Regions from separate parts of the Homo sapiens genome. Here all the other regions are linked to region 3. Evidence: fine-mapped expression QTL. A gene starts in region 3. Each other region holds a variant in brackets. All regions are shown on one strand. Distances are between the middles of the regions.

Region 1 (10,782 bases), 110 kb after region 3:
ATTCTCAAGTAAATAGTGGAGTTTCCAAGTGACTACATGACAGGTACACAATGGAATTAATGGAACGCAGAAGTACATAAGAACCTAGATCTCTTTTATTAAAGAGATCATGACACTTTTAATTAATACAAGTATTGATAATCCATATAACAAAACTTTTTTCATGTCCAGTTTTTCTGACAACCAAAAAATTGCCTAATTAGCAAATTAAACTGGTGTATTTATGAATTAAAGTAAAGATTACTATTTTTTCTTAAATATTTTTGTTTTGGCCAGGAGCAGTGGCTCACACCTATAATCTCAGCACTGTGGGAGGCTGAGGCGGACTGATTGCTTGAGGCCAGGTATGTTCAAGACCAGCCTGGGCAATGTGGTGAAACCCTGTCTCCACTAAAAATACAAAAAAGTAACCAGGTATGGTGGCATGCACCTGTAGTCTCAGCTACTCAGGAAGCTGAGGTGGGAGGATTGCTTGAGCCTGGGAGGTCGAGGCTGCAGTGAGCCAAGATCGTCCCACTGCACTCCAGCCTGGGCAATGGGAGTGAGACCCTGTCTCAAACAACAACACAAAGTTCTGTTTTGCAAAACTAGGATTTTGTTGTTGTTGTTGTTGTTAGTTTAGTTATGGAGTCCCACTGCCTTTACTTGCCCATCATCCATTGTACCCTCTTCTGCTTAAGAGTCCCCAGTTTTCGACGAGGCACAGTGGCTCACACCTGTAATCCCAGCACTTTGGGAGGCCAAGGTGGGAGGATCCTCTGAGGTCAGGAGCTTGAGACCAGCCTAGCCAACATGTTGAAACTCCATCTCTATTAAAAATACAAAAATTAGGCGGGAGTGGTGGTGTGCGCCTGTAATCCCAGATACTCGGGAGACTGAGGCAGGAGAATCACTTGAACCCAGGAGGCGAGACTGCAATGAACCGAGATCGTGCCACTGCAAGCCAGCCTGGGAGACAGAGGGAAACTCCGTCTCAATAAATAAATAAATAAATAAAAAAGTCCCCAATTTTCTAATGGGGAGCCACCTCCCCAGTGATCTCAGTCCATGAGGTTCAAGAGGAGGTAAGCACTACTCCTGGATTCCAGCATGCGCATGTAACCCAGGCCTAGACAATCAGTGTATTCTATATACCTAGAACAATGATGGGTGCAGGCATATCCCCATGCATGACCCGATCAAACAATGCAACTCAACTCTGGGGGTCATTAGAACTGTTCTGAAGGAGGCACTGTCCTGACACTGGGATTGCTGAAAGGATAGAATATAAGCTTGGAGCCTTATCACTCTAAAGGAAGAGCATACCCAACAAAGAAAACGCCAAGAAATAGAAAGAGGAAGACAAAGTCCAAATGACATCATTCAACCCTGGATTCAGCCAAGGCTGAACTTTTCACATACATGAGTCAATAAATTTTCCTTTTAGATTGAAGCCAGCTTGAGCTAGATCTTCTGACATGTGCAACTGTAAGAGTCCTGACTAATATGATTACACATGGTTAATAGTCCTGATTCATTACATTAGTCTTTTAAGTCCTGATTCATTACATTAGTCTTTTACCATGCCAAGTGCTTATATAAAATCTTCCCGGCAGGGCACAGTGGCTCACACCTGTAATCCCAGCACTTTGAGAGGCCGAAGTGGGCGAATTGTCTGAGGTTGGGAGTTTGAGACCAGCCTGGCCAATATGGTGAAACCGGGTCTCTATTAAAAATACAAAAAATTTGAGGCTGGGTGCGGTGGCTCATGTCTGTAATCCCAGGACTTTGGGAGGCTGAGGTGGGCAGATCACGAGGTCAGGAGATTAAGACCATCCTGGCTAACACAGTGAAACCCCATCTCTACTAAAAATACAAAAAATTAGCCGGGCATGGTGGCGGGCGCCTGTAGTCCCAGCTAGTTGAGAGGCTGAGGCAGGAGAATGGCCTGAACCTGGGAGGCGGAGCTTGCAGTGAGTGGAGATCACGCCACTGCACTCCAGCCTACGCGACAGAGTGAGACTCTGTCTCAAAAAATAAAATAAAATAAATTTAAAAATAAATAAATAAAATAAAATTAGCCCAGCTTGGTGGTGCACGCTTGTAATCCCAACTATTCAGGAAACTGAGACGGGAGAATCGCTTGAGCCCGGGAGGCGGAGGTTGCAGTGAGCCAAGATCGCGCCACTGCATGCCAGCCTGGGCAACAGAGTAAGACTCTCTATCAAAAAAAGATAAAAATAAAAAAGGAATCTTCCCTTAGAGTTTATTTGCCCCCAAAAAAGCCATATGATACAATAGTTACCTAATGAATTGTTTCTGGATTTTTATATCCTAAAATAATCTACAAAAACAACCTAAGGGTCCATCAGCAGATGAATGGATAAATAAAATATGGTACAGATACAATGGGGTACAATTCAGCCATAAAAAGGAATGAGATCCTGTCATTTGCAACAATATGGATGGAACTGGAGGTCATTATGTTAAGTGAAATAAGCCAGACACCGAAAGACAAACCACATGCTCTCACTTACTTGTGGGAGCTAAAAATTAAAACAATTGAACTCATGGAGACAGAGTAGAAGGATGGTTACCAGAGGCTGGGGAAGGTAGTGGAGGCATAGGGGGAAGTGGGGATGGTTAATGGGTATGGAAAGTAGATGGGGATGGATACCCCCATTTACCATGATGTGATTATTATGCATTGCACGCCTATATCAAAATATCTCATGTACCCTATAAGTATATATACCTACGGTGTACCTACAAAAATTTTAAAATAAAATAATCTACAATTTTTTTTTTTAAGACAGAGTCTCACTCTGTTGCCCAGGCTGGAGTGCAGTGGCGCCATCTCAGCTCACTACAATCTCTGCCTCCTGGGTTCAAGCGATCATTCTGCCTCAGGCGAGTGGCTGGGACTACAGGCAGTTACCACCATCCTTGGCTAATTTTTTTCTTTTTTTTTTTTTTTTGAGACGGAGTTTCGCTCTTGTTGCCAAGGCTGGAGTGCAATGGCGCAATCTCAGCTCACCGCAACCTCTGCCTCCCGGATTCAAGCCATTCTCCTGCCTCAGCCTCCTGAGTAGCTGGGATAACACGCATGTGCCACCATGCCCGGCTAATTTTGTGTTTTTAGTAGAGACGGGGTTTCTCCATGTTGGTTAGGCTGGTCTCAAACTCCCGACCTTAGGCGATGCGCCCACCTCGGCCTCCCAAAGTGCTGGGATTACAGGTGTGAGACACCATGCCCGGCCAACAAATTATTTTTAATAGGATAAAATAGGGGAAATATCATTACTATAATATAATCATTATCACCTAGTAAAGGATATTTATCTCACCAAAAAATAAACAATTCTCATGAAAAATAATCTTCAAAACAAAAAGAGACAGCGGTTGGGCGTGATGGCTCATGCCTGTAATCCCAGGCTGGTGGATCACCTGAGGTCTGGAAGGAGGCCGAGGCTGGTGGATCACCTGAGGCTGGAGTTTGAGACCAGCATGGCCAACATGGTGTAACCTAGTCTCTACTAAAAATACAAAAATTAGCTGGCTGTGGTGGTGCATGCCAGTAATCCCAGCTACTCAGGAGGCTGAGGAAGGAGAATCACTTGAACTGGGGAGGCAGAGGTTGCAGTGAGCTGAGCTCACACCACTGCACTCCAGCCTGGGCGACAGAGGGAACTCCGTCTCAAACAAAAACAAACAAACAAAAAACAACAAAAACCAAAAAGAGATAGCTCAATTCATTCTCCCCTCCTTCAAATATTTGTTTCATTTGTGAAAAATGCAATGCTAAACTCTGAGGGAGAGCAAACTGAGTAAGATTTTTTTAGGACTTTATAATTTAGCAGGACAGATAAAACATGTATGCAAATAAGTTATTCAGTGTTCCCTGAGAATTACAGAATAAAAATAAATAATATCTAGAAGAGGTTTAAAAAATCTGTAATATTATTAAAGCTGTAAGAGTTTTTGGAGATGTGACAATTCTGTCAACACGTGTGGAGGAAATTACAGTTCAGCGAGCCAGTGACTTAGTTCCCATAGCAAGTCAGTGGCAAAATCCCACTAGAAAACAGACCTCTTAGACACAGTCCAACATTCTTTCTTATTACCCCACCCTACCTCTGTTAGAAGAGAAGCAAAATACCAAGAAGTTTCTTGAACTATAATTTTTCTTCAGCACAACCTGAAATGGAGAGAGAATCTCCAAGACCACACTAAAATAAGTGTGATTCTCTCTCTCTCTTTTAAAAAATCATTTATAGAGGTACAACAGCCAAGACTCTGCCTCAGTTCTCAGAGTTTGGCTTCAACTTTCTGTCATGGTTTTTCTCTCATTGACTTTTGTTTTTTCTTGAATGTGCAACGACTTTGCCTGAGCAAAATCCCAAACAGCTTGTTTTGAACATGTTTGTTCTCTTCTCTCTTCTGGGCAAACTAATGGAGTCTGGGAGTGCAAACGTTAGTTACCTAAGTTAAACTTAATCCAGGAAGTCTTCTTTGGCTGATTTCCCACTTTGGCAGTGCCAGCCTGAACAAAAGACTTAAACACTGCAAATTCTAATTATCTTGTGAGTAAGAGCTTTGTCTACAGGAAGTAAAGAAAATACAAATATTCAAAACTAGCAGTGTTATTCCTAGACATCTTCTTGTCAAGAACTTACAAAGAGGACTTGTTCTCATTAGAAATAATTGCTGTGAAGTACAATTTTTACAGTGTTACTGAGATGGCAACTCCCTACAAATAATTTGAGAGAGTGGATTAAAAATTTGGTTTTAAAGAACAAAGTAGAGGTCTCATACTCCCTGTTTTCGAAACTTACTACAAAGCTACAGCAATCAAAACAGTGTGGTACTGGCATAAAGACAGACCAATAGAGTACCATACAGAGCCCGGAAACAAACCATTGCATAGTCAAATGATTTTTGACTACAGTGCTGAGACCATTCAATGGGGAAAGGACAGTCTTCAAGAGCAAAGGTACTGGAAAACTGTATACCCACATGCAAAAGGATGAAGTTGCACCCTTACCTTTTAACATATATGAAAAACAATTCAAAGCCAGGCATGGTGGCCCATGGCTGTAGTCTCAGCTACTGGGAAAGCCGAGGCAGGAGGATCACTTGAGTTCAGGAGTTCAAGGCTGCAGTGAGTTATGATCATGCCACTGCATGCCAGTCTTGGTGACAGAGTAAGACCATTACCCCCTACTGCCCTGAATCCTCAAAATGGATCAAAGACATAAACATAAGAGCTAAAATTGTAAAGCTCTTAGAAGAAAACATAGGAGAAAAGCTTCACGATACTGGATTTGGCAATGATTTATTGATATGATGCCAAAAGAACAGGCAACAAAAGAAAAAAGAGATAAATTGGATTTCATCAAAATTAAACACTTTTATATATCAAAGGATACCACCAACAGAGTAAAAAGGCAACCCACAGAATGGGAGAAAATATTTGCAAATCCTTTATCTGATAAGGAATTAATATCCAGAATATATAAAGAACTCCTATAACTCAACAACATAAAAACCAACAACCCAATTCAAAAATGGGCAAAGGACTTGAACAGACATTTCTCCAAAAAAGACATACAGATGGCCAATAAACACTTGAAAAGACGTTCAGCATCACTAATCATTAGGAAAATGCAAGACAAAGCCACAATGAGATACCACTTCGCATCCATTAGGATAGCAAAAGAAAGAGAGAGAGAAAGGAAGGAAGGGAGGGAGGGAGGGAGGAAGGGAAGAAGGGAGGAAGAGAGGGAGGGAGGGAATATTAAATTCTGGCAAGGATGTGGAGAAATTGGAACACTTGTTTGTTGTCAGGGGAATGTAAAATGGTGCAGCCTCTGTGGAAAATACTATGGAGTTTCCTCAAAAAAAAAAATTTTTTTTTTTGAGATGGAGTCTAACTTTGTCACCCAGGCTG[G/T]AGTGTAGTGGCGTGATCTCGGCTCACTGCAACCTCCACCTCTCAGGCTCAAGTGATTCTCCTGCCTCAGCCTCCCGAGTAGCTGGGATTACTCAGCCTCCCAAGTGGCGGGGACTACCGCCACGCCCAGCTAATTTTTGTATTTTTAGTAGAGACGGGGCTTCACCATGTTTGTCGGGCTGGCTTCGAACTCCTGACCTCAAGTGATCCACCTGCCTTGGCCTCCCAAAGTGCTGGGATTACAGGCATGAGCCACCGCGCCTGGCAAAAAATTAAACATATTCATAAATTTAGCTATGATGCAGCTTGCATGCTTTCTCCTTTTCCTTAATTATGTGAAACTGAAGAGTTGCTTGTCTTGTTTTCCTTTATAGAACTTTGTTTTTTCTTTTTCTTTTTTTTTTTTTTCTGAGACAGGATCTGGCTCTGTTGCCCAGGCTGGAGTGCAGTGGCACAATCTTAGCTCACTGCAACCCCCACTTCCTGGGCTCAAGCCATCCTCCCACCTCAGCCTCCCGAGTAGCTGGGACTACAGGGGCACAGCATCACACCTGGCTAATTTTTGTATTTTTTGTAGAGATGAGGTTTTGCCATGTTGCCCAGACTGATCGTGAACTCCTGAGCTCAAGTGATCTGCCCATCTTGGCTTCCCAAAGTGCTGGGATTACAGGTGTGAGCCACCATGCCCATTCAGAAGTTTTTTTCTTAATGTGAAAGTAATTTGACCAAGTTTTTTTTTCTTTTTTTTGTTCATTTTGAGATGGAGTCTCACTCTGTCACCCAGGCTGGAGTGCAGTGGCGCAACTGCAACCATCGCTTCCTGGGTTCAAGCTATTCTCCTGCCTCAGTCTCCCGAGTAGCTGGGACTACAGGCACTTGCCACTACACCCAACTAATTTTTGTATTTTAGTAGAGATGGGGTTTCACCATGTTGGCCAGGCTGGTCTTGAACTCCTGACCTCAAGTGATCCACCCGCTTCGGCCTCCCTAAGTGCTGCAATTACAGGCGTGAGCCACCGTGCCCGGCCTTGACCGAGTTATGATGCATTATTCTCTTTTTTAAAAAATCCCCTCCTTAAACAGAGCTATAAAGTGGCCAAATCTGAGAACAATCACATTCATTTTAGTTATAATAAATTTAATATTTGTAAATATAAAAAAGTTTAAACACAAAATTACAATATGATCCAGCAATTCCACTTCTAGGTATATACTTGAAGTGAAAGCAGGGACTCAGACAGATATTTGCATACCAGTGTTCATAGCAGCTTTATTTACAATTGCCAAAAAGTGGAAACAACCCAAATGTCCATCTGAAAATGAATAGACTTTTTGCTGTTGTAGAGACAGGAGTCTACCTATGTCACCAAGCTGGTCTCAAACTCCTGGCCTCAAGTTTTAAAGCAGAGTTTATTAAAAAGCTTTAGAGCAGGAACAAAAGGAAGTACACTTGCAAGAGGTTTCAAGTGGGCAACCTGAGAGATCAAGCACACAGTTTGACTTTTGACTTGGAGTTTTGTTTTTTTTTTTTTTGAGATGGGATATGGGATCTTGCTCTGTTGCTCAGGCTGGTCTTGAACTCCTGGGCTCAAGCAATGCTCCCACCTCAGTCTCCCCAAGTGCTAGGATCGCAGGTGTGAGCCACCACACCAGGTCTGACTTGGAGTTTTATGCATTGGCATGCTTCTGGAGGGTTGTGTCCCTTCTGCCCTGACTCTTCCCTTTTGGGGTAGGCTGTCGGCATGCAAAGCGGCCTGCCAGCACTTGAGAAGGGCCACATGCGCAGTGTGTTTACTGAAGTTGTATGCATGCTCAGTTGAGGCATTTTTCCCTTACCAGTTGTGTGTTTATACTCCGCCATTTTGCCTCTTAGTGACTTGAGGCATTTTTCCCTTACCAGTCAAGTGTTCCTAAGGAAGGTCACATACCAGTTAAACTCTGCCATTTTGCCTCTTAGTGCACATGCTTGAGGCTACTCACTCAACTCCTGAGATGTTTTATTTTATTTTATTTTACTTTATTTTATTTTATTTTTTGAGATGGAGTTTCACTCTTGTTGTCCAGCTGGAGTGCAGTGGCATGATCTCAGCTCACTGCAACCTCCGCCTCCCTGCAACCTCCGCCTCCCAGGTTCAAGCGATTCTCCTGCCTCAGCCTCCTGAGTAGCCCCCACCACCACATCTGGCTAATTTTTGTATTTTTAGTAGAGACGGTGTTTCACCATGTTGGCCCAGCTGGTCTCAAACTCCTGACCTCAGGTGATCTGCCCACCTCGGCAGATGCTGAGATTACAGGCCTGAGCCACCACACCCGGCCAACTAATTATTATTTCAGAGAGGCAGTTTAACAAGCGCCTGACCATTAGGCGCGGTTTAACAAGTGCCTGATGGTTGCGACGTTCCTGGATGTTGGGGGCTCTCTCCTTCCCTGCTCATGTCTAACTAACTACCAACTGTAACAACTGGAAAAGACAAATATTGTATTCCACTTATATGGGGTACCTAGAGCAAACAAACTCATAGAGACAAAGTAGAATGGTGTCTGCCCGGGGCTAGAGGGAGGAGGGAATGGGACGTTGTTATCTAATTAATGGACGTACGTTTCAGTTAGGGATGATGAAAAAGTTTTGGAGATGAGTAGTGGTGATAGCTACACAATAACAGGAATGTACCTAATGCCACCGAACTGTACATTTTAAAATGGTAAATGTGATGTTATATATATATTTCAAAAAAAAAAGAAAAATGTTGACCAGGCACAGTAGCTCATACCTGTAATCCCAGCACTTTCGGAAGACAAGGCAGGAAGATCATTTGAGCCCAGAATTCGAAACCAGCCTGGGCAAACAGTAGGACCTTGTCACTACAAAATAAAAAAATAGCCGGTGTGGTGGAGTGCACCTGTAGTCCCAGCTACTCTGGATGCTGAGGTGGGAGGATTGCTTGAGCCCAGGGAGTCGAGGCTACAGCAAGCCATGATCCCACCACTGCACTCCAGCCTGAGCAACAGAGTGCAACCCTGCCTCGAAAAATTTTTTTTTTTGTTTTAGGCACATATTTATTGAGAATAATTTTCAAGAATAAAGGTTGTTTATCTGTAGGGCTTTTTCCCCCACAGGTTAATATGCACTTTGAAGTTTCATTCATTCATTGCTGAATGTGTGCTTTGAAGTTCTATTCACAAATGTTCATTGACAACTTGCTGAAGTTGCAACAGTGAGCAAAACAGACATAGCTGCAGCCACAACAGAGCTTACTATTTATTGGGGGAAATAGGTAAAAAGAAGTTAAATAAATAGGTTGGGTGTGGTGGCTAATGCCTGTAATCCCAGCACTTTGAGAGGCCAACGTAGGCGGATCACTTGAGGCCAGGTGTTCCAGACCAGCCTGGCCAACATGATGAAAACCCATCTCTACTAAAAATACAAAAAATTAACCAGGCATGGTGGCACATGCCTGTAGTCCCAGCTACTCGGGAGGCTGAGGCAAGAGAATTGCTTGAACTTGGGAGACAGAGGTTGCAGTGAGCCGAGATCACACCACTGCACTCCAGCCTGGGCGACAGGATGAAACTCTGTCTCAAAAAAAAAAAAAAAAAAAGAACTTAAACAAACATATAAAATAATGAATTATAAATGTGAAGAAGTAAACGTTGTGCTAAGATAGATTAGTGGGGGTGAGGAAGACCTACTTTAGATGGATCTGATAGTTGCTTTATTGTATGCTAGAGCTGAGTGATATAATAAAAATAAATATTTGGTCTATGACCTCGGTTCCCAGCACACAGCTCTTAAAACCCTTGGAATCTCTGGAGACATAAGAATATTTTGTGTATGCTAAAAGACGACTGGTGGGTGGGTGTCCCTAGATAGCTTCAGGATTGGGGCTAGTTTCCAGAAAGACCAAGACATGATTAGAGGCTTGGAACTTTTAGCCCCACTGCCTGATCTGTGGGGAGGGAAGAAGAACCAGAGATCCAATTAATCACCAATGCCAGTGATTTAATCATTCATGCCTACACAATGAAGCATCCATAAAAACCCTAAAGAACAAGGTTCAGAGAGATTCCTGGGTTGGTGAACACATCAAGATGCTTGGAGGGTGGCACTCCCAGGGAAGGCATGGAAGCCCTCCCCACAACCCGTACCTTGCCTTATTCATCTCTTCCATTTGACTGTTTCTGAGTTATATCTTTTATATCTAAAAAAAATATTAATAGGGCTGGGTGCAGTGGCCTACGCCTATAATCCCAGCACTTTGGGAGGCTGAGGTGAGTGGATCATCTGAGGTCAGGAGTTCAAGACCAGCCTGGCCAACATGGCAAAACCCCGTGTCTACTAAAAATACAAAAATTAGCCAGGCGTGATGGTGGGTGCCTGTAATCCCAGCTACTCGGGAGGCTGAGGCAGGAGAATCATCTGAACCCGGGAGGCGGAGGTTGCAGTGAGCTGAGATCGTGCCACTGCACTCCAGCCTAGGCAACAGAGCAAGACTCCGTCTCAAAAAATAAAATAAAATAAAACAAACCATTAATAGTAAATAAAGCATTTTCCTGAGTTATGTGAGCCATTCTAGCAAATCATGAAACATAACGAGGGAGTAATGGGAGCCTCCAGTTTATAGCTGGTTGGTCAAAAGTACAGGTGGCAAGCTGGGACTTACAACTGACATCTGAAGGGGGAGCAGTCTTGTGGGACTGAGCCTATAACTTGTGTGATCTCATGCTCACTCCAGGGAGAGTGTCAGAATTGAACTGAATTGTTGGACACTCAGTTGGTATCTGGAGAGCTGGAGAATTCGTTGGCATGAGAAAAAAACCCACACATGTGGCATCAGAGATATTGTGAGTGAAAA
Region 2 (10,374 bases), 48 kb before region 3:
GCTGATATTTAACATCATTAATGGTTTTTTTTTTTTTTTTTTTTTTTTTGAGACAGATTCTTGCTCTGTCGCCCAGGCTGGAGTGCAATGGCGCGATCTTGGCTCACTGCAACCTCCGCCTCCCAGGTTCAAGTGGTTCTCCTGCTTCAGCCTCCCGAGTAGCTAGGACTACAGGTGCGCAACCACGCCCAGCTACTTTTTTGTGTTTTTAGTAGAGACAGGGTTTCACCATGTTGGCCAGGCTGGTCTCGAACTCCTGACCTCAGATGATTTCCCGCCTCGGTCCCCCAAAGTCCTGAGATTACAGGCGTGAGCCACCGCCCCCAGCCAATCATTAATATTTTTAAACATCAGTATGATATCTTAGTCTTGCTGCCTTCCAAGAAAGTGATGCTATGATCAAGCAAAAAATAGGCATACTTGATGCATGGCAAATATAAAATGTCATGTAAATGCTCAAAAATTTTACTGTGGGCCAGGCGCGGTGGCTCACGCCTGTAATCCCAGCACTTTGGGAGGCCGAGGTGGGCGGATCACCTCAGGTCGGGAGTTCGAGCCCAGCCTGGCCAACATGGTGAAACCCCATCTCTACTAAAAATACAAAAATTAGCCGGGCGTGGTGGCAGGCGCCTGTAATCCCAGCTACTCAGGAGGCTGAGGCACAAGAATCGCTTGAACCTGGGAGGCAGAGGTTGCAGTGAGCTGAGATCCCGCTACCGCACTTCAGCCTGGGCGATAAAGCGAGACTCCGTCTCAAAAAAAAATTGTACTGTGATAACAACTATATTTGCCATGAATGCCTACAGGATTTGGAGATTCCTGCCTTGAAAGAGTGTTTAAGTTGGCACCCAAATCGCGATACCTGCCCTGGGAGAGAAAGGAAGAGAACAGCAGAGAACAAGTACCTGATTGTTTCTCACTACTTCCCCGCTGCGCAGACGCCAGAGAGAGAGAGAGACAGTCAGAGCCTCTCCTCAGGTGAAAGGCAGGGGGATAACGAGGGAGAAACCTCCGGAACGCCACCGGCTCTCAAACGAGTAGCTGGAGAAGGGCGGTCGCTGACCGGTTGGAAACAACGTCGTCGCCATGGAAACTGTGGCGGCCCCAGCTGGAGGGGCTGGGTGAAGGTTGCCTGGAGAGGCAGTTGCCAAGCTGCAAGGGGTTAGGATTACCTGTCACAACAATAATTCGTTACTCAAGTAAATGGGGTGTGAGGTTTTGTTTGTTTGTTTTAACCTAACTGCCTTTCCTGGGAAGGGGACCAGGAAATTAGAATCTTCAAACTGTGGAAAACTGCAAGACTGGAAATTTAGATCTGTTGGAAAACAGATTTATGGAAACACTCTCAGCAAGAGAATCAAGTCTTCAAATGTCCCCTAGTGACACCCTGTAAATATTGTAACTAATCAGCAATATAATTTATCTTGCTTCTAGATTTGCTATTTGTTGACACAGCACTTCCAGGAATTCTTTGGCAAAATCAAACAGGTTAAGGTGTGTGAATTTAGTGGTATGCTGGGAGAAAGATGTGAAATTTTGCTGTTTGAAGCTGCACAATGCATACTACATCTAAATGATAATAGCCTACGAGAATACTATGTGCCAAAATTAAATTAGGGAAGTGAATACTGCCGGTGTGTTAACAGCATATTCATTCAACAAATATTTGAGCACCTTCTATGTGCCAGTTGCTACGTAATTTTTTTTTTTTTTTTTAATGAGAGTACAGCCTACACTATTGTGTCTGGCACAGAGTAGGTGCTCTAAAATGTCATTTAAGCGAGTGAATGAACAAGTAAAACTTCCTGGTAGTTTGTAAAAGCAAATTATCTTTCTGTAGAAAATAAAATACTTGTATAAATAATGTGACTTTTTTTTTTTTTTTTGAGACAGAGTTTTGATCTTGTTGCCCAGGCTGGAGTGCTCACCACAACCTCCACCTCCCAGGTTCAAGTGATTGTCTTGCCTCAGCCTTCCAAGTAGTTGGGATTACAGGCATGCATCACCAAACCCGACTAATTTTTTTTCTTTTCTTTTTTTTTTTTTTAGTAGAGACGGGGTTTCTCCATGTTGGTCAGGCTGGTCTTGAACTCCTGACCTCAGGTCATCCGCCCACCTCGGCCTCCCAAAATGCTGGGATTACAGGCGTGAACCACTGCACCATGCCACCTTTTCTCTTTTAAACTCAGTCCTATGACAGATTAGACAGTTTTTTTAATGTCAATTTGTTAGGGTTTATTTTTTAGAGACAGGGCTCTCGCTCTGTCACCCAGGCTGGAGTGCAGCGGCACCATCATAGTGAAAGGAGTCAGCTAGATTTTGCATTAGGTAGATAGCAAGGGAAGGGTCCCCAGAGAACCCCCAGCCCATGGGTCAGTGCCTCATCCCCACATAACATAAAAAGCAGCCTGGGAAAAAATTCAAGCGGCAGGCACCAATAAGGGAACTAGCACAGGGTGTTGTGCCTGGAGACATGCCCACGGCTCCACAGATAGAAAAATCTCCAGCCCATTTGGACAAAAACTTGCACAGACCTCCTCCTCACTCACATAAAGGAACAAAGAAATGCCTTTGTCCTTTGTATAGTCAATGGGCTCCCAGGGAAAAAAAAGTTTATTTTCCTTTTGTGGGTATGGGCACAGTGGGCTCCAGTAGGTTCCAGTGGGCACTCTACTTTCCTTTATTTGGATTGTAAGTCCGGCTTCTAGGAATCATCACTTCAGCTCCTGATTTGTCCTGGGCCAAGGTCCAGGGCCAAACTTTCTCTTCAGTTCCTGATAGGTCCCGAGCCAAGCTAAGCAGCATCTATGAATCATCATTTCAGCTCCTGATTAGTACCAGGCCAAGCCCCAGGGTAGCGGGGTCGGGGGACGAAGCACATTCCTTCCCCTTCCCAGTCCATAAAAACCCTGGACCCCAGCCTCATAGGGGGCACCCCATTCAGGTCCCCCTCTCTGCTGGCAGAGAGCTTTCTTCTTTCTCTTATTAAACGTTCGTTCTAAACTAACCTTTGGGTCTGCGCTCCTTAATCA[T/A]CTTGGAGGTGGGACAAATAACTCCAGGTGTTATCTCAGACAATGAGAAACTGTTACATCTTGGTGCATTGCTGAGACTACAGCAATAGCTCACTGCATCCTCAAACTCCTGGGCTCAAGGGATCCTCCCACCTTAGCCTCCTGAGTAGCTGGGACTACAGGCACACACCACGACATCGGCTAATTTTTAAAAATATTTTGTTGGGACAGTGTCTTACTATGTTGCACAGGCTTGCCTCAAACTAGTGGACTCAAGCAATCCTCCTGCTTCAGCTTCCTAAAAGTGTTGGGATTATAGGCATGAGCCACCATATCTAGCCTGAATGTCAATTTGGTTAGGCTAAATTAGAAGAACTAAAGAGAAGGCAGCAATCTTGTGTATGATATACCCACCTTCTCCCAGTCATTAATCAAACACTAATCTAGGGCTGCTGTGAGGAGATTACAGCTCAATTCAAGTCCCTGGTCAATTGACATTGATCTAAGAAGATTATCCTGGGTGAGCCTGACTCAATCAGTAGAAATCCTTTTAAAAAGATTTAGGCCTGGCAAAGTGGATCAACCCTGTAATCCCAGCACCTTAGGAGGCCGAGCCAGACAGACTTCTTGAGGGAGTTTGAGACCAGCCTGGGCAACATGGTGTAACTCTGTCTCTATTTTAAAAAATTAAAAATTAAAAAAATAATAATAAAGAGATGGGCATGCCCTGAGTCAAACTCCAAACAGCAGCTGGGTCTATAACTGCTCTCCATTTTCTGGTTCTTCCCTTCCTGACAGATAGTCTGCCCTACAGACCATGGACTTGGTTAACCAGCCCCCTCCATTGCATAAGCCAATTCTTTGTTTAAAAAAATATATATATATGTATAGACATACACACACACATATATAGATATAGATATAGATATAGATATAGATGATATGTATTATATCTTAGTGGTTCTGCTTCCCACTTTGAACCCTGACTGATACAATGTACGTCCTTTTTTTTTTTACTTTAAAAAAAAATTTTATTATAGAGACAAAGTCTCACAATGTTGGCCAGGATGGTCTTGAACTCCTGGCCTCAAGCAATCCTCCTGCCTTGGCCTCTAGATGTGCTAGGATTACAGGTGTGAGCCACCACGCCTGGCCGATGTACATCCTTTTTAATAGCCAATGTTTCCAAAAGTGTGTTCTTTTACAAGAACAGATTCCTCTTGAGCTTATACAAATAAATAATATTGCCATAAAACAAGAATACTCATGAATAGTTTCCTAATTCTGGAGATATCAGGTAGAGAGAAAGATAAATATTTCAATTTTACTCACAAAATATACCAAAAAGTTACCAAATTGCTATAAAACTACAGATAATGCAGAGAAAAAAAGTTTTCTTAACTCTGAAAGAAAATAATAATAAAAAGCAACGTTTCAAGCAAAAAAGTCATTAAAATCATTTCAGTCCTCATCAGTTCCGTCCCATGTAATTAATTTTTGTTCTACTTGATAAATTAGCAATTTTAAGTCCAGTTTTTACCATTGGAGTTTCTCAAGTTCTTATTCAGTCCAACTTAATAATCAACAGAGGCCTGTATTCCAGAGTATGTATCAGACTTTTTATCCTTCTCATAAACCTCTTTGAAGACACAATGCTTTAGGATTATATTTGCTTGCAAAGATCATTTAGAAAAAACATTAGAATAAAGCAATTTACTACGAACAACAAGATTTAGAATGGCTATGGTGAAAGACCTGGTAAGAGTTTACAACAATGATGCGATTGACAAGGAAATTTGTTTTTTTCTGTAGTCTATAACAAGTTTACATAGTAGCCATAATTATGACTGATAACATACAAAAAGACACATCAGACTTTTAGGAATCTCATATACTTTTAAAACACATATTAATAACATGTTCATATAAATGTAATGCAAAGGTTTCCTGTATAATTTACATATCAAATAAGCCTAATACGTCTCTCTTAGGCTTCCAGGGGCCATTCTGGGATAACCTAAGGTTAGTTTGAGGCCGAAAAGACTTAATTTAGAATTTGAAATTTGACTTTGGGAAGCCTGTCAAGTATGTCAAAGGATAAAAACACTCAATTAAAATAGAAAAGGCCAGGCTCAGTGGCTCAAACTTGTAATCCCAGCACTTTGGAAGGCTGAGGTGGAAAGATCACTTGAGCCCTGGAGTTTGAGATCAGACTGGGCAACATCAGGGGACTCTGTCTCTACAGAATATTTCTTAGCCAGGCGTTGGTGGTGTGCACTTGTGGGCCCAGCTACTTGGCAGACTGAGGGGGGAGGATCACTTGAGCCTAGGAGGTCGAGGCTGCAGTAAGCCATTACTGCACCACTGCACTCCAGCCTGGGTGACAGAGTGAGACACGGTCTCAAAAAAATTGTTTTTAAATGAAAACAAACGAGGAAAGTTTTAAGACATTTGATCAAAAGAAGATCATAGGTCACTGTAAAATAACAGTTATTCATTTAGCCAAAGTGAAAATTTAAAAGATTTTACAAAGCAGTGCTCATTTCGGCAGCACATAATATTAAAACTGAAATGATACAGAAAAGATTACCATGGTGCCTGCATAAGGATGACACACAAATTTGTGAAGCATTCCATAGTTTTTTTAAAAAAAGATTTTATAAAGCAAAATCCTTCACTTTTTCATAGAGAGAAGACTCAGTTTTCCAAATAATGAAAAGATCTAACAAAGAGAGCAGGGCCGGATGCAGTGGCCTGTGCCCATAATTCCAGGTACTCAGGAGGCCAAGGTGGGAGGATCACTTGAGCTCAGGAGTTCAAGGCTGCAGTGAGCTATTATGGCTGCACTTGTGAATAGCCAATGCACTCCAGCCTGGGCAACAGAGTGAGACTATGTTTATAAAAAATATTTTTAATTAAAAAATTTAATCAGGCCAGGTGCAGTGGGCCACAGCTGTAATCCCAGCACTTTAGGAGATTGAGGCAGGCAAATCACTTGAGGTCAGGAGTTCGAGACCAGCCTGGCCAACATGGTGAAACCCCGTCTCTACCAAAAAATACGAAAATTAGCCAGGCATGGTGGTGCGCGCCTGTAGTCCCAGCTACTTGGGAGGCTGACGTGGGAGAATCGCTTGAACCCAGGAGATGGAGGTTGCAGTGAGCCAAGATCATGCCACTGCACTCCAGCCTGGGCAACAGAGTAAGACCCAAAAAATTTTTTTAAAAATTGTTTAAAGACAGCATGAGGCACACAATCTGTTTCTCTCTCTCTCTCTTCTTTCTTTTGCAATTTACTCAAAAAGTGAACAAAATCTTTTACTATATTTTATTTTATTTTTTGAGACAGGGTCTGGCTCTGTCACCCAGGCTGGAGTGCAATGGCGCAATCTCAGCTCACTGCGACTTCAGCCTCCCAGGCTCAAATCATCCTCCCACCTCAGCCTCCAGAGTAGCTAGGACTACAGGCATGAACCACCATGCCCAGCTAATTTTTGTATTTTTGGTAGAGACAGGGTTTTGCCATGTTGCCCAGGCTGGTCTCAAACTCCTGGGCTTATGCAGTCCTTCTGCCTTGGCCTCCCAAAGTGCTGGGATTACAGGTGTGAGCCACCATACCTGGCTTACTATCTTTTATTAATACCACCAGAAAATCATGTTCAAATGAGAGAACCAAATTTAGTTTTGTATCAGTGTATTACTAAAGCAAATTTCAATAAAACCATAAGGCCAGGCATGGTGGTTCACGCCTGTAATCCCAACACTCTGGGAGGCCAAGGTGGGAAGATCTCTTGAGGCCAGGAGTGCAAGACCAGCCTAGGCAACACAGCTAGCGAGACCCCATCTCTACAAAAAAAAGTTTTTTTAATTAGCCAGGCATGGCTACATACCTGTAGTCCTAACCACCTGGGAGACTGAGGCAAGAGGATTGCTTGAGCCCAGAAATTTGAGATTACAAATGAACTATGACGACACCACCATACACCAGCCTGGGTCACAGATCAAGACCCTGCTTTTAAAAACAAAACAAAACAAAACAAACAATGAATAAATAAATATTAATAATAAAACCTTATAAACAAATAGATCCAGTCTCAGTCAACTTTGACCACATAAGAAATCCATAAGCCTTTTATAACCTCTTACAGTTTTTAAATTTTTTCTCCAACTTTTTATATCCGTTTATTTTTGTATACATTTTTCCATACATTTATTTTTATTTTTATTTTTTGAGACAGAGTCTCACTCTGCCACCCAGGCTGGAGTGCAGTGGTGCAATCTTGGCTCACTGCAACTTCCCCCTCCCGGGTTCAAGCGATTCTCCTGCCTCAGCTTCCCAAGCAGCTGGGACTACAGGCACGTACCACGACGCCCAGCTAAATTTTTTTTTTTTCTGTATTTTTAATAGAGATGGGGTTTCACCATGCTAGCCAGGCTAGTCTCAGAGTCCTGACCTCAGGTGATCCACCCGCCCTGGCCTCCCAAAGTGCCATATATTTATTCTAAGACAATCTTTAAATAACCTTTAATTAGGCAAAAGTTTTTCATTTTTTTTGTTATTGTTTCAGTGGCTAGAAACAATTTTTTTTTTTTTTTTGAGATGGAGTCTCGCTCTGTCGCTGAGGCTGGAGTGCAGTGGCGCAATCTCGGCTCACTGCAAGCTCCGCTTCCTGGGTTCACACCATTCTCCTGCCTCAGCCTCCCGAGTAGCTGGGACTACATGCCCAGCTAATTTCTTTTGTATTTTTAGTAGAGATGGGGTTTCACCGTGTTAGCCAGGATGGCCTCGATCTCCTGACCTTGTGATCCACCCGCCTCAGTCTCCCAAAGTGCTGGGATTACAGGCGTGAGCCACCGTGCCCAGCCAAAACAAAAATTTTTAAACAAAAGCACATATACTCATGACTTAACTTTTCCTCACTAAAAAGATATGTTGTTTTTATCGTACTCTGTATACAAAATTATTTATTTATTTATTTATTTATTTTTTGAGATGGAGTCTCGCTCTGTCGCCCAGGTTGGAGTGCAGTGGCGCGATCTCGGCTCACTGCAAGCTCCGCCTCCCGGGTTCACACCATTCTCCTGCCTCAGCCTCCCTAGTAGCTGGGACTACAGGCACCCACGACCACGCCCTGCTAATTTTTTGTATTATTAGTAGAGACGGGGTTTCGCCGTGTTAGCCAGGATGGTCTCAATCTCCTGACCTCGTGATCCGCCCGCCTTGGCTCCCAAAGTGCTGGGATTACAGGCATTAGCCACCGCGCCCGGCCACAAAATTATTTCTTACTTTCAGTAGTTTTAATTACATATATTACTTTGAATTTTAACTCTTAGTAACCCTAATTTCTAGTGACAACCCAGGAAGTCAGTAATTTTGAATTGTTTTATATCAGTATTTGCAGACAACAGCCACTTAATAATTTCTAAAAAGATATGTTTTCTCAAAGTGTTATTAATGAATCCAAATATATTTAGCTTTCTATATCATATGAAACAAGACATCAAAAAAATGAAAAAAAAACAGAACTTGAGAATAAGTGGGAAAAATGAAAAAAAGACATCAAAGTATATAAACTTAAGTTTAATAATTAATGTTTCAGTATTTTCACTTAGAAATAACTCAGACATTTTACTTTTTTTTTTTTTTAAGAGATGGGGTCTCGGGCCAGGCATGGTGGTTCACGCCTGTAATCCCAGCACTTTGGGAGGCTGAGGTGGGCATATCATGAGGTCAAGAGATCGAGACCATCCTGGCTAACACGGTGAAACCCTGTCTCTACTAAAAAATACAAAAAATTAGCTGGGCATGGTGGCAGGTGCCTGCAGTCCCAGCTACTCAGGAGGCTGAGGCAGGAGAATGGCATGAACCCAGGAGGCAGAGCTTGCAGTGAGCCGAGATCACGCCACTGCACTCCAGCCTGGGCGACAGAGCAAGACTCCATCTCAAAAAAAAAAAAAAGAGATGGGGTCTCACTATGTTGCCCAGGGCTCAAACAATCCTCCCGTCTCAGCCTCCCAAAGTGCTGGGATTACAGGCATGAGCCATTGTGCTCAGCCAATGCGGACAATTTATAATTATCTATTACTTCATTTAATACAGCATGACTTTAAGATTTTAAATTACTGAAAAAGTTTTGGAAACTATGACAAGTTTATTTGTAGATGCTTATCCCATTCACAGTTATCTAATTTACTTGTTCTTAACAACTGTATTTCATTTGCTTATGGAAAGCAAAACTAGCCATTTATGTTATTTATTTATTTATTTATTTTCATTAAGCCCCTTCCATTCTAGAAAGTTATTTATTTTGAAAAAACAAAGCCACCAGGTATAGTGTCTCATCTCATACTGCTAATCTCAGCCCTTTGGGAGGCTGAGGCAGGTGGATCGCTTGAGCCCAGGAGTTTGAGACCAGCTTGGGCAACATAGTGGGATCCCCCATCTCTACAACAAATAAAAAACAATTAGTTGGGTGTAGTTGCGTGTACCTAAAGTAGGAGACCAAGGAGTTCAAGGCTCCAGTGAACTATTATGTTGCCACTGCACTCCAGCCTGGGTGACAGAATGAGACCCTGTCTTAAAAAAATAAAAAGTGGCTGGGCGTGGTGGCTCATGCCTATAATCCCAGCACTTTGGGAGGCCAAGGTGGGTGGATCACCTGAGGTCGGGAGTTTGAGGCCAGCCTGACCAACATGGAGAAACCCTGTCTCTACTAAAAATACAACATTAGCTGGGTGTAGTGATGCATACCTGTAATCCCCGCTACTCAGGAGGCTGAGGCAGGAGAATCGCTTGAACCCAGGAGGTGGAGGTTTTCACTGAGCCAAGATCATGCCATTGCACTCCAGCCTGGGCAAAAGGAGTGAAACTCCATCTCAAAAAATAAATAAATAAAGAGCAAAGAAAACACAAAACTAACCTAACCCTGCATCAGCCAGTCTCATCTTAACCAAGGCCTTTCAGATATTGGACAGAGGCACTTTTCCCAATATCCCTTTGTCCTTCTCCAACCCCAGTCACCCTGTTCCTGAGTATCCATGTGGCATCCAGGACAGCTATGAAGGGCAGAGCCCATCTGTGTCCTGGATTTACATACCAGGTATAGAGCCCAGTACAGAGGATAAAGCTGTGAAGATGATGGTGGAGGTTCCAACCCCTCCCAACATGATAAGGATGCAGAGTTGCGCCAGGGAGGACAGGGCCATACTGCACTCAGCTTTACATGCAGCTGGTAGTCCAGGTGATACAGACACACACGTTTCCAGGCTTCACCATGGCCACCTGTCTAGATCTCAGAATCCAGAGGCCCAAAGCCAAAGACAAAAGCTCATATCAAAATGTGTGCAAGGTTTCAGGGGAGCCCCG
Region 3 (10,782 bases):
CATGCCCACACAAAAACTTGTTCATGAATGTTGAAGAGCTAGAAAGTGAAAACAACCTAATTTTTATCATCTGATGAATGGATAAATAAAATGTGGTTTATCCATACAATGTAATTACTATTTGGCCATCAAAAGAAATGAGGTGCTTATGTGAATTTAATGAAAAGGAAAAAAAAAAGAATGAAGTACTAATATACGCTATAATATGAATGAACTTTTTTCTTCTCTTTTCTTTTCTTTTTTTTTTTTTGAGACAGAGTCTCACTCTGTCACCTAGGCTGGAGTGCAATGGCACGATCTCAGCTCACTGCAACCTCCACCTCCCGGGTTCAAGGGATTCTCGTGCCTCGGCCTCCTGAGTTGCTGGGACTACAGGTATCTGCCACCACACCCGGCTAATTTTTGTATTTTGAGTATAGATGGGGTTTCACTATGTTGTCCAGGCTGGTCTCGAACTCCTGACCTCGTGATCTGCCCGCCTCAGCCTCCCAAAGTGCTGGGATTACAGGCGTGAGCCACCGCGCCCGGCCATTATGAATGAACTTTGACAACATCATGCCAAGTGAAAAAAGCCAGACAAAGAGGCCATAAATCATGATTCCATTAAATGAAGTGTCCGGAATAGATTAACCCATAGAAACAGAAAACAGATTACGGGCTGGGAAGAAAGGGGAATGGGAATTATTACTAATGGGTATCAGGTTTCTTTGAGGGATGATGAAAAATTCTGGAATTAGACAATGGTGATGGTTACACAACTTTGAATACATATACTAAAACCCACGGAACTGTACACTTTAACAGGGTAAACTTTATGGTCTATGTATTATATCTTGATTTTTTTATTAAAAAATTTTCTAAAAAGCCAAAACCAAAAAACCTAGTTCTGATGCCAGAGACCTCAAATACTATTTACATGCTGCCATCCTGCCTTTAGGTTTTTCTGGTGGACATACTGTATCTTAATATTTTGGCCAGGCACGGTGACTCATGCCTGTAATCGCAGCACTTTGGGAGAATGAGGCAGGTGGATCACCTGAGGTCAGGAGTTTGAGACCAGCTTGACCAATATGGTGAAACCCTCTCTACTACAAATATGAAAATTAGCCGGGCATGGTGGGAGGGGGCCTGTAATCCCAGCTACTGGAGAGACTGAGGCAGAAGGATTGCTTGAACCCAGGAGGCGGAGGTTGCAGTGACCTGAGATTGCACCACTGTACTCGAGCCTGGGTGACACAGTGAGACTCCATCTCAAATATTTTTTATCAAATTCATCAGATGCTTGACCAACCAAACTGAAACTCAGGCCACCAGTTATACGGAAAAATGTGAACTTAGGTTCTGCTTCTACACACGGATGAGAAACATCTACATTTTTATCAGTTAATTAGCAGCAAATTATCAAAGTTTCCGACAGCCTATTGCACTACTATAATAATGCAAAAGGGTGCATCTAAGGATGGCTGTACCTATCAGCCAGTGGCATGAAACAGGATTTTTGCCTTTTCTGTTTCCTATATTCACATAATCAGAAGAGCCTGTTTTTTTAAAGGCTGGCAGTTATATGTTCAACCAATAACCTGAGAAAATGCTTGTAATAAGCTAAATCAAAAAGAGAGGACACAAAACTAAACATCACAACTACAATTTTAGAGGAACAAAAACTTCCTCTTAAAAGGCTGAGCGTGTACCAGGTGTGGTGGCTTACACCTGTCATCCTAGCACTTTGGGAGGTCGAGGCAGGAGGACCTCTTGAGCCCAGGAGTTTGAGATCAGCTGGGCAACAGAGCAAGACCCCCATTCTCTACAAAATAATTTAAAAATTAGCCGGGCATAGTGGCGCCTGTAGTCCTAGCTACTCCAGAGCCTAAGGCAGGAGGGATTGCTTGAATCCAGGAGTTCAAGGCTACAGTGAGCTATGATCATGCCACCTGTATGTGCCCCAGAGTATGGGTGACAGAGCAAAACCCTGTCTCAAAAAATAAAAATAAAAATAAGGCTGAGAGTAAATATGACAGAATAGTGGAATTACAGATAGGTAATTATCACTTTATTCTTTTACCTGTTTTCTAAATGTAACAGAAGGAACACATACTACTTTTAGAATCAAGAGGAAAAACATAAAAAAATTACATAAATAGATGGATTTACAAAATATGCTAAGAAACAAATATAAAACACCACTCTTTAGCTTGGTAATATTTTTTAAAGTGACAAATATAGGATCCTTTCTCCTGAACATCTCTAGACCCCCAAAACCACAGTCACATTCAAGACAATACAGAACTACACTGGCATACTACACTACACTGATATCAGCAAACTTTTTAAAAGTAACACTTTTTCAGCTTTTCAACAGGCAAGAACTGGAAAGTTCAAAGTAAAGAGATCAGAATTAGTAATTCCTCTGCAGAACACATTAGTATTTTTGGATATATACATAATTTAAGGATTCACTTAACAACATTACATCTTATCATGGATCAAGATACAGAAACCAGACTTAAAATAGGACAATGCAGCCAGGCTCAGTGGCTCGCCCTGTAACCCTAGCACTTTTCGAGGCCGAGGTGGGCGGGATCGCTTCAGCCCAAGAACAGGCAAGATAGTGAGACCTTCTTGCTACAAAAAATGTCAAAAATTAGCCAGGCAGGTCTAATGGCATGTCCTTGTTGTCTCAGCTACTCAAAAGGAAAAAAAACATAATTATTTAAAAAATATATACAAAATACAGAAGCTGGCTGGGTGTGATGGCTCATGCTTGTAATCCTAGCACTTTGGGAGGCCAAGGCAGGTGGATCACCTGAGGTCAGGAGTTCGAGACTAGCCTGGCCAACATGGTGAAACCCCGTCTCTACTAAAAATACAAACATTAGCTGGGCTTGGTGGCGGGCGCTTGTAATCCCAGCTACTGAGGAGGCAGAGGTTGCAGTGAGCCTAGATCATGCCATTGCACTCTGGCCTGGGAGACAAGAGTGAAACTCCATCTCAAAAAAAATAAACAAAATAAAATACAGACGCTATTGCTTTATTTTTATTTTTTTCAAATAGATACGGGGTCTTGCTATGTTGACCAGGCTGGCCTCAATGTGATCCTCCCAACCTGGCCTCCCAAAGTGCTGGGATAATAGGCGTGAGCCACCACACCTGGCCAGAAGCTATTGCTTCCTAACTCGAGCAGTATGGGCAATATCATCACTTGCATAACTTACCCTTATAACTAGTACATAATTTCTGTCAATCAATAGTTCAGATGATGTTAAATTTGATACACTGTGTTGGTTTTTTAATTACAGTTAACTACAAGCTAACTTCCAATATCTTTTAAAGTTACTTGAACTTTTGAAGAACAGCAGGTGTACGAATTAAATTTAAAACTTCTCCATAGTAGTTTGGCAAACCTGACACATCAGCTAACTGCTATCTCCTTTATACTTTAAAATGGTAAAGTCTGAATAAAACACTGACTCAGGAGGGCATGAATCTTATCTAAGCTTTATAAAGAAAAACGAAGCACACTAATGTAAAACATTAATAATTCCAACAGTTGAATGGGGCAGACACTTTAAAAGTGATCTATTATTTTTGCTGTCAGTCACTCATAAAGCCAGACAGAAAAATGTAAGAATTATCAAACTTCCAAACCACCTTTTTCCCTGTTCATGCACATATCTCCCTCGTACGTTGATACTTCCTTTGATGAGTTACCATAAATGTCGATCTTGTGACTGAAGTGTTTTTTAGTCAAGGAAAACTGATTATCCCAAAATTAAAGTGCAAAACGATAGCATGCCTGAGTAATAAAACATTAAAAACAAGTAACTCCTAAATCCTCCACACAAATGCAGAAACTTAAATATTTTTTCTCTCCCATTTTCTTCGAATCATTTTTTGGGGTGGAGGGAAATGCCTCCCAATATAGTAAATATATGAAAATGCTGGTAGCATACTTCTATATTCCTTGCCCCTCTGATACTTTCATCAATCACAAAAGACTAAGGAATTGAAAAATAGCAATTCATTTACAATAAATCTTAAGTAAAAAGACCAATATACTATGTGTTCTGGAACATAACCATATATTGTTAAATCTCTTTAACGAACAGACTGGAAATTCATTTATCACAGTCCGAAGTCCTCCCATTAACTTCCGATCCTTTTTCAGACTGCCAACTTTCAGCCACTGAAAACTTAAATATGCTTGCCCTCCTAAAATAATTCTGTCCTCTTGACAAAGGAAATCTAAGAAACTTTGAAAGAAAAAATACTTTATGAATGACTCATAAACAATTGATTCACAAAGTGTAAGTACGCTAAGAGGAAAATAAACATGAGCCAATGTATATACTGTTACTCTTTATATACCTTGAAATATTACAGAAGCTTGTGTTTGCAAGTTTTGATGGTAGTACAGCTCTAAAATAAAACCTCCGGCCGGGCGCGGTGGCTCACGCCTGTAATCCCAGCACTCTGGGAAGCCTGGGTGGGTGGATCACCTGAGGTGAGGAGTTCGAGACCAGACTGGCCAACGTGGTGAAACCCCCGTCTCTACTAATAATACAAAAAATTAGCCAGGCGTGGTGTTGCATGCCTGTAATCCCAGCTACTCGGGAGGCTGAGGCAGGAGAATCTCTTGAACCCGGGAGGTGGAGGTTGCAGTGAGCCGAGATTGCGCCACTGCACTCCAGCCTGGGTGACAAGAGCAAAACTCCGTCTGCAAAAAAAAAAAAGGAAGAGAAAAATAAAACCTCCTCCGGTAGAAAACAAGCTAATGAACCAACAAGTTTCAACGTTCAAAGTTAGAGGGGCTTCTTTCAGCGTTATTCTAGTCCATGGAGCTCAGCTGTGATGTAGACTGCTTACAGTAACCGGGAGCGGTTGCTTACTTCAGCCAACTGACAGCCCTTCTCCCTCAGCTGAGCAAAAACACGCCCCCTAAAAAGTAGTTTTTAAAAAGTCAACTTTCTAAAAAGAAATTTTAAAAAAATTGTAGTTACTATTTAACAAGACTACCATAAAATTCAGCGTCATGATGTTCAGTTACTTGAAAATTTATCAGGTATTTTTTAAAAATTCGTTTCTAAAATTTTTTTGCATTAGACCTTAGACCGCCTAAAAATAAGCTTAAAAACCTAGGAGAATAAACCAAACACATTTAAAGTTTTTGAAAATAGTCAAAGAAATAGAAGATAAGCTCAGTTTTCGGAGAATGAGATTAACAAGGAGCGAAAAACTTGAAACGGAATCCAGCGCAAGGCCAAGTTTAGCAAAGTGAGCGCTGAAGGACTCCAGACTCTTCGGAAACCTTGGGTGCTCCCTGGCCACCGCAACTTCCTGCCCCGGGCGGCTCCAGGCTCCGGGTGGCCGCTGGCTTACATACCAATGGAGTATGCAGGGACTGTACACGAAACGCAGAAGGGGAGGGAAAAGGCTGGAGTTGCTCTGCCTCCCTCCTGACCGCTGTCCACACCCGGGCAAGAAGGTATGCAGATCGCACCCCCAGAAAGGGCCTCGCCAAGTGTTTGCTTCCCAGAGTTGGCTTTCCCCACATCTCTGCCCAATGTTGTCCAGCTTTCAATAAGATCAAGGAGAAAAAGCCGAGTCCAGAAAGAAATCTTGCCCGAAGCCCTGTCCCTGTCTCGTCTGGCGACAGATCGGGGGCGGGGGGGATCGCTCACCCTCCGCTCCATTGTTCCCCCTTAAGAATTCCTTCCGACCCCCGACCCGGCGCCCCTCCCCCACCACAGCGGGCGGAGGAAAAAAACAGGCCCAGAGGCCACCCCAATTGTGGAGACCCTGCCTTTCCCAGGTCCCGCCTGACTCGCAGCCCCTCACTCACCCATCAAAATGCGCATCTGCTTCTTGCCAAATAGTCGGGAGAAGAGGGAGGAGATAGTGAGGCCCATGGCGGTAGTGGCACTTGTGATGGGCAGAAGCAGAAGGGGTTTGGGGCGACCCCGTGCTTTCTCCTTTCAAGCTCCCAGGCAAACTAAACGAGAGGGAAGAGAAAGAGCGGAGGAAGAAAGAGGGAGGCAGAAACGTCTCAGTGGCCCCTGTGCCGATGAAGATCCGGCACAGGAATAAGCCGGTAGAGGACCTGCTAGGCGACTGGCGCGGCAGCTCCGGCTCTAGCCTTTAGGCTCTGGCTGTGCCACGTCACGCGGCGGCCGCGGCGACTCCAGCAGCGGCCCGGCCCCTCCAACGCGGACAGAATCGCGTCACCGCCGCCCCATCCCCCTGCGCTTCCGGTGCGCCCGAGCCACTGCGCTTGCGCCTGCAGGGGATTGGCCAGTTTCGCTGACGAGCATCTCTCGACGGCGCCACCGCCCGGACGTGGCCCCAGGAGCCGGGAGAGGCCGGCTGAGGCACATGCGTACTGGGAGACGGACAAAGTCCCACAATACCTCGCTTCGTCACTGCCAAATCAGACTCAGGGTGAGACGCTTCCGCCCGGATGAAGGTATTGTCGGGGTGATAGTCCTTGCTTCCGGAAAGGCGAGCTGAGCATTATGGGTTAGGTGAGGAACCTCGCCCTCTTCTATTACGGTACGCGCGATGGGTATTCCCTGATGCCATGAACTTACACGTTTCACACACGGGACCAGACGCTTGCTTTAGTTGACGCATGAAGACCGGTCCGGTCTTTTGCGGAGAAAAGTGGTTAAAAGCTGACTTGTGGGCCGAGAAACTGTGGCACCCTAATGAGCTAGGGCTAGACGCTTCGACCACCACGCCAAGTGATTCTGAAGATCTCTAATTCTGTCAAGGCGAGAGCGCTCCAACACGTGTTCATCGGCTGTTGCTTTTTAAAGAGAAGGCAAGGAGGAAGTCTTGCTTTTCTTGTACTTTTTTTCCTAGAAGCAGCATTAAAGATTTACTCCTTATGTTGAGGAAGCGGAAAGCCTCTTCACTTTAAAAGTGTTTATGATCGGGCCTGGCGCGGTGACTCACCGCGCCCGGCCTGCTACACCTTTTAAAATTCACAGCAATGATAAATGTATTAGACTCATTGCCAGGATAAAGATTTAATCTATTTTTCTAGTAGTGCCGTCCTATGTGGTTCTGTAGTTGCTTATTCCAACTGGTATATTTCCATAGGATGGGGTTGAATAAGAAAAACTTGCAAACTTTCAGAAACAGTAAGTTATTTTTATATTTTTGAAGGCTTGCTGAGTAACGCTTCTCTTGGTAGCACTACCTTATCTACCCTTCAGAGACTGTTATTTCTTAGGAGTGGCCCTGGGCAATTAAAAGCAAAAACTTCTGGCCGGGCATAGTGGCTCATGCCTGTAATCCCAGCACTTTGGGAGGCCGAGGCGGGCAGATTACGAGGTCAGGAGATCGAGACCATCCTGGCTAACACGGTGAAACCCAGTCTCTACTAAAAATAGAATAAATTAACCGGGCGTGGTGGCGGGTGCCTATACTCCCAGCTACTCCGGAGGCTGAGGCAGAAGAATGGCGTGAACCCGGGAGGCGGAGGTTGCAGTGAGCGGAGATCGCGCCCCTGCACTCCAGCCTGGGCGACAGAGCGAGACTGTCTTAAAAAAACAAACAACAACAACAAAAAAACCCCAAAAACTTCTTTACTCAGAAGTACCCTCCTTTGCATTGGAGATACATGTAAAGAGTTGCTTAGCAGTTGAATAACTCAAAATTGCATTTTGGAAGCTTGCTAAGTGACAAGACCTTCTTGTATCCTTTTGTGAACCCCCAAAATATGAGACAGGCCTCAGTTAATTTAGAAAGTTAATTTTGCCAAAGTTGAGGACACGCGTCCATGACATAGCCTCAGGAGGTCTTGTAGACATGTGCCCAAGGTGATCAGAGCACGGTTTGGTTTTATACATTCTAGGGAGAAATGAGACATCAATCAATATATGTAAGATGAACATTGGTTCATTCTGGAAAGACTGGACAACTCAAAGCAAAGGCAGGAAGACTCTGAGTGGGGAGGGAGCTTCCAGGGCATAGATAGATAAGAGACAAATGGTTGCATTCCTTTGAGTTTCTGATTAGCCTCTCCAAAGGAGGCAGTCAGATATGCGTTTATCTCAGTGAGCAGAGGGGTGACTTTTTAAAGAATGGGAGGCAGGTTGGCCCTAAGCAGTTCCCAGCTTGACTTTTCTCTTTAGCTTAGTGAGGTGGAGGCCCCAAGATTTATTTTCCTTTCACACTTTAGGCCTTATGTCTGTTTTTAGTTTTATATAGTAGAATTCCTTAAAACAATCTTCAACTAATTCTTAGGGTCTTCTTAAATTCAAAAGACAAACCGTATGAGCCCTCCTCCCTGTAACTTATTCCAAATCTTAATCCATGTTTTCTGTTTAGTTATGCAAAATAAATCGAAAGAATTCTGTTCTCCATCTCTAGCCTCCAAAACCTGAACCAAAACAAAAGTTGTCAAAACAGATTTTTCAGTAAGAATACACTACACATCAAGTGGCTAATGTAAATTACAAAACAGGATGTTAATGGCAGACTGTAATATCTCTATTGTACAGATAAAAATAATCAGGGTCAGAGAGATTAAATATTCTGCCCAAGGTCACACAGCTAAAAGCAGTGGAACAGCTATAAGAACCCATTTCTTCTGGTATTAACTGGTATTTACACTCTTTTTTTTTTTTTTTTTTTAATAAATAAGTGGATTCTGGCTATGTTGCCCAGGCCTGTCTGGAACTCCTGGGCCCAAGCAATCCTTCCACCTCAGCCTCCAAAGTGTTGGGATTACAGGTGTGAGCCAGTGCACCCAGCCATTAACACTCTTAACCACTACACTATACTACCTTCTTACATTTATTTATTTATTTATTTGAGACAGGGTCTCACTTTGTCACCCAAGCTGAAGTACAGTGGCATCATCTCGGCTTACTCAACCTCCTGGGATCAAGTGATCCTCCCACCTCAGCCCCCAAAGTAGCTGGGACTACAGGTACACCACCACATTGGCTAAGTAGTGTTATTTTTTGTAGAGACAGGGTTTTGCTATGTTGCCAAGGCTGGTCTCAAACTCCTGAGCTCAACCAATCTGTCTGCCTTGGCCTCCCAAAGTACTGGGATTATGGGCCTGAGCCACTGTTCCCGGCCAAATTCTTTTCTTTTCTCTTTTCTTTTTCTTTCTTTCCTTTCTTTTCTTTCTTTCTCTTTCTTTTCTTTCCTTCATCCTTCCCTCCCCTTCCTTTCCTTTCCCTTTTCCCCTCCCTTCCCCCTTCTGTTCCCTTTTCCCTTCCCTTTTCCCTCCTCTCCCTTCCCCTCCCCTCCCTTTTTCCTCCTGCCTCAGCCTCCCAAGTAGCTGGGACCACAGACATATTCCACCATGCCCAGCTATTTTATGTATTTTTGGTAGAGTTGGCGTTTTGTAGAGACCAGCATGTTGCCCAAGCTGGTATCCAGCTGCTGAGCTCAGGCGATCTACTCGCCTTGGCCTCCCAAAGTGTTGGTAGTAGAGGTGTGAGCCACCGTGCCCAGACCCCAAATTTATTTTTATTTTATTTTATTTTTCTAGGTCAGGCATGGTGGCTCACACCTGTAATCCCAGCATGTTGGGAGGCCAAGATGGGAGACTCACTTGAGCCCAGAAGTTCCAGACCAGCCTTGGCAATATAGTGAGATGCCATTTCTATTTTAAAAAATATTTTAAAAATAAAATATTTTTCTATTCACCTTTCATCAATACAAACCCAGAAGAGAATCTTTCTTATTTTTAAAAATGAGGAAATTGAGCCCTACAAGAAAAATTGCTATAGTTTATTGATCACTTGCTAAGCCATGTACTTCATTTAATCATCGCTTTTGAACACAGTGTTGTATAAAGTTGCCCAGGCTCAAAAGCATGTACTCATAACATACTACACTAGGTAGTATGTTTTCCTCATCTCTGGTTATTTTATTTTATTTTTTTTTGCTCTGTCACCTAGGCTGGAGTGCAGTGGGGCGATCTTGGCTCACTGTAGCCTCTGCCTCCTGGGTTCCAGCGATTCTCCTGTATCAGCCTCCGGGGTAGCTGGAATTACAGGCACATGCCACTGCGCCCGGCTAATTTTTGTATTTTTAGCAGAGAGGGGGTTTCACCATGTTGGCCAGGCTGGTCTCGAACTCCTGACCTAGGTGGTCCACCCACCTCGGCCTCCCAAAATGCTGGGATTACAGGTGTGAGCCACCGCGCCCAGCCTCTGACTATTTTTCTTAGTGAGATCTTTTTAGTCACAAATATGTATATGGAATTTACATTCCAGTCCCTTGGGTTTAATAATGTACAGACAGCAGACCCCCTGTATCTTCAGGTTTCAAACCCACAGATTCAGCCAATAGCAGATGTGGAACCTGCAGATGCAGAATGGCAACTGTAAGGGCCTTGAGCATCTGCAGATTTTGGTATCACGGGGATCCTGGAACCAATCTCCCCAAATACCCAGGTACAACTATAATTATTTTTGCTGATTGTTATGTCTCATTAGAATGCAAGCTTATTAAGGAAACCATATCTCTTCCTTTTTTCTTTCCTTCTTTTTTTTTTTTTTTTTTTTTGAGACAGTCTCGCTGTGTCACCCAGGCTGGAGTGCAGTGGCGCTATCTCAGCTCACTGCAATCTCTGCCTCCTGGGTTCAGGTGATTCTCCTGCCTCAGCTGCCCAAGTAGCTGGGACTACAGGTGCACACCACCACACCCGGCTAATTTTTTTTTTTTTTTGTATTTTTAGTAGAGATGGGGTTTCACTGTGTTGACCAGGCTGGTCTTGAATGCCTGACCTCAAGTGATCTGCCCACCTCGGCCTCCCAG

Which allele goes with the higher level. Positions count from the first base shown, and alleles are read on the strand shown. Sizes are in standard deviations (SD) of each study's normalised expression. Not every link is listed here.
With allele T in place of A in region 2, the expression in activated naive CD4 T cells of the gene that starts at base 6,110 in region 3 is higher (large effect, 0.91 SD a copy in Schmiedel 2018).

The links. PIP is the estimated chance that this variant, and not a neighbour inherited with it, causes the effect. A credible set is the group of variants that fine-mapping cannot tell apart.
Region 1: its variant is the best candidate, but not a certain one, in a credible set for the expression of ARF4 in whole blood (INTERVAL, PIP 0.60).
Region 2: its variant is the best candidate, but not a certain one, in a credible set for the expression of ARF4 in activated naive CD4 T cells (Schmiedel 2018, PIP 0.88).

What each region holds. Positions count from the first base shown.
Region 1 is chr3:57,705,223-57,716,004 of GRCh38, forward strand. No RefSeq gene overlaps it. Among named protein-coding and RNA genes, the nearest start is that of DENND6A-DT, 17 kb to the left of the region's middle. The variant G/T (reference allele first, on the strand shown) is at 5,930.
Region 2 is chr3:57,543,292-57,553,665 of GRCh38, forward strand. It overlaps DNAH12 (dynein axonemal heavy chain 12), which reads right to left and starts at 1,053. Exons shown (of 74, transcript NM_001366028.2): 1 at 906-1,053. It also overlaps the pseudogene RNU6-483P. RefSeq lists an enhancer at 641-1,191. The variant T/A (reference allele first, on the strand shown) is at 3,033.
Region 3 is chr3:57,591,235-57,602,016 of GRCh38, forward strand. ARF4 (ARF GTPase 4) reads right to left here and starts at 6,110. Exons shown (of 6, transcript NM_001660.4): 1 at 5,840-6,110. The coding sequence starts at 5,906. ARF4-AS1 (ARF4 antisense RNA 1) reads left to right here and starts at 6,555. Exons shown (of 2, transcript NR_132370.1): 1 at 6,555-6,817; 2 at 9,509-9,682. It also overlaps a transcript of PDE12 not described here. RefSeq lists enhancers at 5,514-5,563, 5,584-5,733, 5,647-6,846, 5,722-6,427, 5,764-5,813 and 4 more.